Regions from separate parts of the Homo sapiens genome. Here region 2 is linked to region 1. Evidence: fine-mapped expression QTL. A gene starts in region 1. The other region holds a variant in brackets. All regions are shown on one strand. Distances are between the middles of the regions.

Region 1 (4,385 bases):
TGGCTCATGCCTATAATCCCAGCACTTTGGGAGGCTGAGGAGGGAGGATTGCTTGAGCCTAGGAGTTTGAGACCAGCCTGGGCAACATAGTGTGACCTTGTCTCAACAAAAATATACTAAAATTAGCCAGGCTTGGTGATGCGTCCTTGTAGTCCCAGCTACTTGGGAGGCTGAGATGGGAGGATTGCTTGAGCCCAGGAGGTTGAAGCTTCAGTGAGCCATGACTGCATCACTGCACTCTAACCTGAAGGACAGAGTGAGACTTTATCTCTAAAAATACAAAAGAAACAAAAAATTATTTGTCAATTAAAAAAAAACTGGCAGCTTTCCTAGTTTTCGGTCCTGCTTCCAGCTTAGGAGCAACCAGAGAAAGACAAATATGTGCCCCTAACCAATCACTTGGGATGCCCTGCCCCTTGCTTCCCCAGGCCAACAGCCTCAAATGAGGACATCCCTGGAGGCTTCCCTTTTTTCACTATAAAGCTTACCCACTCCTCTGCCTGACATTGAGTCTCATCCAAATACAAATGATGGTGGCTGACTCCCTTGTTATAGCAAGCTAACAGCCTTTTTGCTTTTCTCATTTTATTGTCTTTATTCCCAGTTATCACCATCTGATCATTAGCCAGTGGACTTTTGCTTGAAGCATGAACCTGTGTATGCAAAGACAGGGCAAAGGTATTCTGATGGATAAGAACAGCCTGAGGAAGTCAGCACATCCAGAGTTAGGCTAAGAGAAGTTTTAGTAGTGTTGTTTACTGTATTATGGAGTGATAAATATGCATTTGTGGAAGACGGTGGAAGACTTTAAATATCAGGCCTTTGTTCTGTGAATGGTGGGAAAATAATGACAACCAGATGCGCTACATCATTTGCGTGTGTAAATGTGGCAAGCTGGATTATTGCAGAAGGCAGATTGAAAGGGTGTTTCCACTATCTCTGCTTTATCTTGCAGAGAATGGAATACTTATGCCTTTGGAGAGGTCTAGAGACCAAGTATTTCTTTTGAATATCAGTATAACATAGGCCCAGTCAGGAGACAGAAACACAGTAAAGAAAAGTTTAATATAAAGAATTATTAGGCCGGGCGCGGTGGCTCACGCCTGTAATCCCAGCACTTTGGGAGGCCGAGGTGGGCGGATCACCAGGTCAGGAGATCCAGACCATGGTGAAACCCCGTCTCTACTAAAAATACAAAAATTAGCCAGGTGTGGTGGCTGGCGCCTGTAGTCCCAGCTACTCGGGAGGCTGAGGCAGGAGAACGGCGTGAACCCGCGAGGCAGAGCTTGCAGTGAGCCGAGATCCACGCCACTGGCACTCCAGCCTGGGCGACAGAGCAAGGCTCCGTCTCAAAAAAAAAAAAAAACCACCAAAAAAACACAGTTTACATTCTAGCTGTGCTACAAAGTTCTTACCGGCAGATTGGTTTAGTGGCAAAATAGCAGACCTGCTGGTGACTCCAATTTGTAGTGTGCTTTTGGGCGAATCACCTCATTCCCCGGACCTCATCTGGAAAATGTGGAAATTATACCGGATGACTGGTAAGGTTCTACGATTTTATTCTGATAGGGTCTGCACATCCTTGTGGTTGCACTTCTATTTTCCAAATGTGTTTGTCTAAGGCAGGCAGACTTTATAACAGAGAAGTACTAGAAAACGGATTCCCTGTGGCTCAGGGAATAAAGTGGGACACAAGAAAAAAGAAAACCGCACCGCACCCAGACTCTCGGCGGGACGCCCCGCCCCTCAACAGTGGCCGCCTCCTCGCGCCCCTCCTTCGCCATCTGCCGGCCGCGTCCCCTCCCGCCGGCCCCCGTCCCCCGTCCCCCGCCCCCCGTCCCCTTTTCAGAGACCTGAGCTCCGCCTCCCTGGACGCGAGGCAGGCTGGGAAGTCGGCCGCCGTAAAGATGGCGGCAAATTGAAAAAGTTGGAGCTGCTCCCGCGCGCGCTCCCGCGCGCGCTGAGTGGGCGGAGCGAACAGGGGGCTGGACAGGTGCGTTCTCGCGGCCGTGCAGAAGCGAAGTAGGGGTAGGAGCGTTTCCGGCTCTCCTGAAGGACGCGGGGCGGGGTGGGGGTGGTGCAAGGCAGGCGCGTTCTCGGCCGTCCTGAAGGGGCAGGATCTTCAGCCTGTGGGCGGTGCTCTCGCCGTGAGCGGGGCCAACGGGCCGTGTTCTCCCTGAAGGGGCGGGGTCTGATCGCTGCGGGTCGGATTCCCTTGGGCCTGAAAGTGAGGATGAGCGACAACCGTGGGCGGGGCCTGCGCTGGGGAAGGTGGGGCCTGGGCGGGGCGGAGGGGGCTCGGGCCCGGAAGTGCGGGTGTGGGGCGCGGCCGGGGCGGAGACTTCGGGCCCGGCTGGCGGGCGGCGCCGGGAGCGCGGGGGCGGCGGGCCCGGGTCGAGCATGTAGCGGCTGCTGGCGGCGGGGCTCCCGGGGCGGGCCGGGCGGGCCGCGGGAGCCGCACGCGGCGATATGGAAGAGGAGGGCAAGAAGGGCAAGAAGGTGAGCGTGCGCGGGGGCGTCCTACTGCTGTGGTCGGCGGGCGGCTGGGTTGAGGGGCCAGGGTGGGGTGGGCGGGTGTTCCTTGGGGCCCGGGGGGGGGGGCAGTGGGCCAGCTGGCGGGGCGGGGCGGGGCAGGGCGAGACCCCGGACAATGGTCAGGTGGGCTTTCGCGGCCGGGCGGGCAGGAAGCGCCGCGCCTTTCCTCTGGCCCGGGCAGCGGCTCGCCCCGACCTCGGCCCCAGACGGCCTTCCCTGCGCGTCGGGACCTGGGGCTGCAGAGGAAGTGGGCCCGGCGAGGGGCCAGAAAGCTGTCCAGGGCTGGAACTGGAGCTAGTGGGCTGTGTGGTTAACGTGGAGACGTTTGCTGCTCACTGGACTTCGTTTTTGGATATCCAGTAAAAGCAAGGGTGGCCTTCACCTTATGGCCAGCTCACTCGTCCACTATCACTCAGACCTAAAACCATTGATTGATTTTAGTGACGCTAGCTACATTTGGCAGTGGGATTTAGGACATAGTTCATAGTCAAACCCCAGTTTATGTAGTTTTACAAAATGTGGCTTTAATTACAGTAAAGGGTTATAGTAGTCGATAAAGAAACATTTTAAGACTGGAAAAACGATGTGGATTGAACTACCATTAAAGTGGAAAATGGATTTTAATAAAATGTATCTTTTTCAAATAAATGCTTTATAATCTTCACGTCTTGGCTATCATTTTCTTTTTGATGTGTGTGTGCGCACTTTTATCCACAAGTTTAAAGCAGACCTCGATAATTCCTAACTATGATTTTACTACCCTGAACTCTGCAGGGAAGTGTCCTTTAATTGACAGCTACTCACCACCTTGTTTGACAGAGTGCCCCATTTAAAAGTCCTGTTTGAAATAGAATGTAGCCAGGTGGCCTTCAGGGAGTCCTGTGGTGCTGGTTCTCTACTTTCTCAACTCATTGTTTCATGTTAGCACCATGCATGTCTAATTTAGGTGCAGTATAATTTGCGGTTATCTACAAAGATGTTTTAAGTCTGGAAAATAGCTCAAGATAGTGATTCAGCCTGCAGGTGTTAGATTAGAGATGCGTGCTGCGCACAGAAGAGGGAGGAGCCAAGCAGTGTAAAAGGAGTTAGCTGGAAAGGAGAGGTGCTAACCCGGTGGCTGCTTAGTAGGGACCATCAGGCCCGAGTGTGGATGATGCTGAGCTTTGCGGAAAGTGAGCCATGTGCTCTGTGGAATGCCGGGATCCAAGAGCGCGCTAAGGACTGATGACCTCATTGTGCACCGCTTACAGGAGTACCTGGCCCATCTACCTGTGTGTGATAGGCAAGGATGGAATTGAGTGATTTTTTTTTCTAGAGCTGTCTATCAGCTTTGGTAGAAACATGAAACACCCAGCAAATAGGGAGAGAGAGAGAGAAGCAGTAAGACTGTTTTTGGGGTACAAGTGAAAAAACAGTAAAATTATCAAGAATTTTCCAGTTGGGTAATGAAAAAATTTAGGCATAAACAGGTTAATTATTAATTTCATTTTCTCACTAGAGGAGATAATCAGTTGTTATGTAGTTGCTTAAGCCAGGGGTTTTGTGTTTTTTCTGTATTCTGCCACTTGTCTTAGCTTGTTTCCTGTAGACAAGCCAGACAAGGAGCTTTGGGGCATGGATTCTTCTCCAGGTCATGACTTAACACTACCTCGTGTACTCTGCCAGTTGCAAGCTGGCAGAACCTTCCTGCTCAGCTACCACATTCAATGTGAGATCACCTCCAGTTTAATAACTTCGGTGGTTAAATCATTCTCATTAAGGTAAATTGCATTGCTCTAAACTTATACACAAATTCAGACATAAGTAGCAGAAGTGCTGACAATAGTTTTATGAAGGTACAGTTTGGACGC
Region 2 (4,385 bases), 74 kb after region 1:
TACTTCCTAATCTACAAGTGAAGACAGGGGTGATATATGCCTGGGTTAAAGGAGACAAAGCCCCAGTAACCCTGCCTGGCACATGAGTGATACCTCAAAGACAGCTTTTGCTGGCTCTGGCCATGGGTGAATGTGTACTTCAGCCCAGCGTGCAGCAGGATTTGCATTTGCCAGGATCCCCAGGAGGGGTGTATGTGGGCTCAAGTCTGGGAAGCCCTGCCCTGAGGCACACAGCACATTCCAGAGTGCGGGCAGCTTGATGAAGGACAGCAGGGTCCCTGAAGACCAGGGCTGCCGCTGTCTCCTGTAAATACAGCAGTGGGCTGGACTCAAAATGCCTCCCCACTATGTCCCTGAAAGTCATCTTAGTTTTCTGCATCTTCCTTACAGATGACTCTTCTACAAAAGTGGACATTAAGGAGACCTACGAGGTGGAAGCCAGCACTTTGTGAGTGCACATGCCACCAAGCCCTGCGGTGGGACACGCACCAAATGCGTTGTCTGGTGTTGTCCAGGCTGCAGCCAGTCAGCTCCCCCATCTCAGCTCACCCTCGCTAAGCCATCCCCAGACCCACTGTACCCAGCTTAGTGAATGGCTGAGGCCTGGCTCGCCGCCCTCTCCTCGTAGACTTCTAGAGCCCTTGCTGTCCCTCTTGTCTCTCCCTGCCTACCTTCCCATGGCCTCCCAAGAGTGAGCTTGTAATAGGCATGTTGGATGGAGCTGTTCCCCTGCCCGAGCCTGCCGAGGCGCTGGCCTTCCAGCCCATCTCTGCCACCACCTGGGGCTCTGTAGTAGTTCACCCACTCGCGCTCTCCATTCCTGCCACCTCCCCAACCCTGGCTCCTTCCCCTGCCCAACAATGCTGCCCACTGCCTTGACCTGTGTACTCCCTCTCTTCACTCAGAGCCCAACTCAGAGCCATGCCCCCGGGGAGCCCCAGGACCAGGCCAAGCTGACCACCCTGCATGCCCAGTCAGCTCTCCTCTCATCATCATCATCATCACTTACATTCCTCTGTTCAAGGACAGGGACCCACACACACGGCATGGACTAGGTTTCCTGAAACGTGTGTGGGATGGAGGGTCGGGGAAGCCACCCGCTCACATACCACATTCTTTCGCAGCTGCTTCCCTGAATCTGTGGATGTGGGTGGTGCATCACCCCACAGCAAGACCATCAGTGAGAGCGAGCTGAGCGCCAGCGCCACTGAGCTGCTGCAGGACTACATGCTGACGGTAGGCCTCCGCTGCAGGGACGCTGGGCTGCATGAGGGAGGGGGTGCCCCAGGGAGGATGGGGGGAAGGGGAGGAGGAGGAGGAGCAGTGCAGGGCAGGCTGCAGTGAGTGAGGTCACCTAGAGCACTCTTGGTCAATTTTGCTGACATCACTGCCTTTTCCTGGGGATAGTCTAGGAGAGCATCAGTCAGTGGGGCTGAGTTGGGAGTGCTGTGGCCGTCAGGGCTGGACTGTGGGCCTGTGCTTGGGTCCTGGGGGAGGGGAGGGAACGGTGGCCCCTGCAAGGCCACATGGCCAGACATTTTTATCCTCCCCATCTTATATAGTTCTGTCATTGCAAACTCAAGTCTTCCTGATTTGCCTGTGTGCCTGTGTGTAGCCTAAGGGCACAGGCATTGGCCCCGGGCCAGGTTGCCAACTTCCACCCTGCCCTGCTGGCTCCTGTCCCTCCCATGCACTCTGTGTTCCAGCTCAGGAGAGTGGAGCTGCCCGGGTGCCTTGGTCTCCTCTGGGTGGCCCCGTGCCAGGTCTGGTAGGATGGGGACACATTGTGGTCATTCTGATGCCCCAGCCTGTGCAGAGGTGAAGCCAGAGACAGCTGGTGCTCTGGCTGGGGTTAGTGGCTGTGGCAAGGTGGGCCCGACTGCCGACTCTTGCCTACTGTGCCCAGCCCCCTATCTGGCTCTGCTCTCTTGCAGCTGCGCACCAAGCTGTCATCACAGGAGATCCAGCAGTTTGCAGCACTGCTGCACGAGTACCGCAATGGGGCCTCTATCCACGAGTTCTGCATCAACCTGCGGCAGCTCTACGGGGACAGCCGCAAGTTCCTGCTGCTTGGTGAGTGGGCCCTGGAAAGAGGGTGGCTTGTCCAAACCTGGCTTGGAGAGGCTGATCCCTCCTGGGAATGTGCACACGGACCCCTCAGTGGGTGCAGCAGGGGCTCCATCAGGGATGGGAGATTTGAACCAGAGATGGCATGAGAGCAGAGTCCAGAGATCGGGGAATCTGCTGTGATTAGTCAGAAGGGCTTTTCCCAGGTACTGTTGGGGGCCC[A/G]CCGACAGGCCTTCATTCTCCTGGGAACTCAAGCTGAGCTGGGTGGGCCCTGCCAGGAAGTAGCAGAGATCCCCCAGGAGCAGGGCTGGGAGTGAACACAACCCTGAGATTTAGGAAAACAGTGCTGGAGGAGCCAGAGAGGCATGGGTTTTGGTGAATGTGTAGGACTTCAAGGCGGAAGGACCAGCGTTTGCCAAGACCCCTAAAATGCTCGGCACATTAGGTCAGTGCGGCTAGAGGGCTGTGTGGTCTGAGCAGCAGAGTTGGATGTTGGCCCCACACCTCTCAGGGGCGGTGACTTAGCTGTGGTTTCCCTCTGCCGACACTTAGAACACAGCAAGTTTGCGGTAATGTGTTGCTAGTAGCCAGTTGAAGGCTTCTGGGTCCTGGCCTGTTTTCCCTGCAAACCAAGGAAGGTGGGTTTGTTAACCATCGTACCGACCTGGCAGTGGCAAACGTGGATTGCCTGCCCAGGGCTCCCCGCTCTTAGGAGCGTGAAGGGCTGGAGGCTGGGGCAGCCTGTCTGTACAATAGGTTCTGTCTAAGCAGTGCCTGCCCCTTCTGTGCTGGGCCCTGCGTTGCCTCCTGGCATGGGACTCTGTCTGCCCCTCCACATCGGGGAGTAGAGATTCTGAGAGACACACTAGGCTTCCCAAATAAGAGGGCAGCCCTCTGAGTTGGGACAGTCACCTAGGTCATGGCAGGGAAACTGGACTTTGGCATGAGGCCTGCCTCTGAGGACTGCACCCTTGTTGCCGGGTGCCAGCAGGTGGCTTTGAGCACTGCTCTGGGCCTCAGCTTTCCCCACTGTAAAATGGGTCCTTTGTGAGGACTAATAGAGAATGAGAGGAGGCCACAGGTTCTTGGCCTGTGCTGGTGCCTTGAGGCCAGGGAGTGTGCATGTGGCAGAGGCAGTAAGCTGTCAGGGCCAGCAGCAGTGTCTGTCAAGAGTTGAGGTTTTAGCCAAACTGTCTGGCCCCAGGAAGCATGATTTCAACCAGGATGCTAGATGCAGTGAGCATGGCATCAGGGTCCCCAAGGCCATGCACCAGGGGCAGCTGTGGCCCTGTCAGGGGGCTTTGAGCCCTGAGAGAAGAGCTGAGTGGGCTGAGCCGAACTGGAGGTGCCATGCTGGGTGTTGTGTGTCTGCAGGTCTGAGGCCCTTCATCCCTGAGAAGGACAGCCAGCACTTCGAGAACTTCCTGGAGACCATTGGCGTGAAGGATGGCCGCGGCATCATCACTGACAGCTTTGGCAGGCACCGGCGGGCCCTGAGCACCACATCCAGTTCCACCACCAATGGGAACAGGGCCACGGGCAGCTCTGATGACCGGTCGGCACCCTCAGAGGGGGATGAGTGGGACCGCATGATCTCGGACATCAGCAGCGACATTGAGGCGCTGGGCTGCAGCATGGACCAGGACTCAGCATGATGGACAGTGGATGGGGGGGCACCCACACCTTCCGCGCAGTCGTCATAGGCCTTCCCAGAAGGAGCTGCCCAGACCTGCGTGTCAGCCCTTGGTGGTGGCCAGGGAGAGGCGCCCGGTGCAGATGGCCCCGGGCGGCCCAGGTCCTCTACTGTGAAGGAGCAGGGAGCTGCCGAGGGACACGAGCCTCAGTGCGGGGTGGAAGGCTCTTTGCCTTGTCCACCAGGGCTCAGCCAAGCCCTGCAGTGTGTCCCCGCTCGGGGAGGGCCCGGCCGAGCGGGCAGGGAGAGCCAGTCCTGTCGGCTGGGCCCTTGGACGGCTGTCAGTTTTGCACATGATGTTCCTATTGTAACTCTCAGAGACCTTAAAAAGAAGTTTACTGCAATGTGAATAATTTAATCTCTGGTTGCCAAGCATGTTTCTGATCCAGTTGGGTGAAAGCCATCGGTGCCAGGAGGGGTGTCCGCTCTAGCCTCTGTCCCTGGGTCCCCATCTGCCCTGCAGCACCTGGGACTCGGCAGTGGTCCCTGGGGGCTGGGGTGGAGGAGGCAACAGGCTCTTGTGCCACAGGAAGGACTTGATTTGGACTTGAGCAGTGTGGATGTGGGGCAGGAGCGGGTGTTCTGAGGCCTTTCGTGGGCAGCGTGTGTGAGGGTAGCGTGTGTG

What was found. PIP is the estimated chance that this variant, and not a neighbour inherited with it, causes the effect. A credible set is the group of variants that fine-mapping cannot tell apart.
Region 2: its variant is the best candidate, but not a certain one, in a credible set for the expression of CCM2 in whole blood (INTERVAL, PIP 0.90).

Annotation. Positions count from the first base shown.
Region 1 is chr7:44,997,865-45,002,249 of GRCh38, forward strand. CCM2 (CCM2 scaffold protein) reads left to right here and starts at 2,337. Exons shown (of 10, transcript NM_031443.4): 1 at 2,337-2,499. The coding sequence starts at 2,470. LOC102723334 (a long non-coding RNA gene) reads right to left here and starts at 2,144. Exons shown (of 4, transcript XR_428139.4): 1 at 1,854-2,144; 2 at 1,416-1,509. RefSeq lists silencers at 1,604-1,653, 2,284-2,813.
Region 2 is chr7:45,072,336-45,076,720 of GRCh38, forward strand. It overlaps CCM2 (CCM2 scaffold protein), which reads left to right. Exons shown (of 10, transcript NM_031443.4): 7 at 391-448; 8 at 1,125-1,236; 9 at 1,935-2,073; 10 at 3,442-4,118. The coding sequence ends at 3,722. Among named protein-coding and RNA genes, the nearest start is that of NACAD, 14 kb to the right of the region's middle. RefSeq lists enhancers at 153-812, 813-1,472, 2,070-2,239 and a cis regulatory region at 2,155. The variant A/G (reference allele first, on the strand shown) is at 2,290.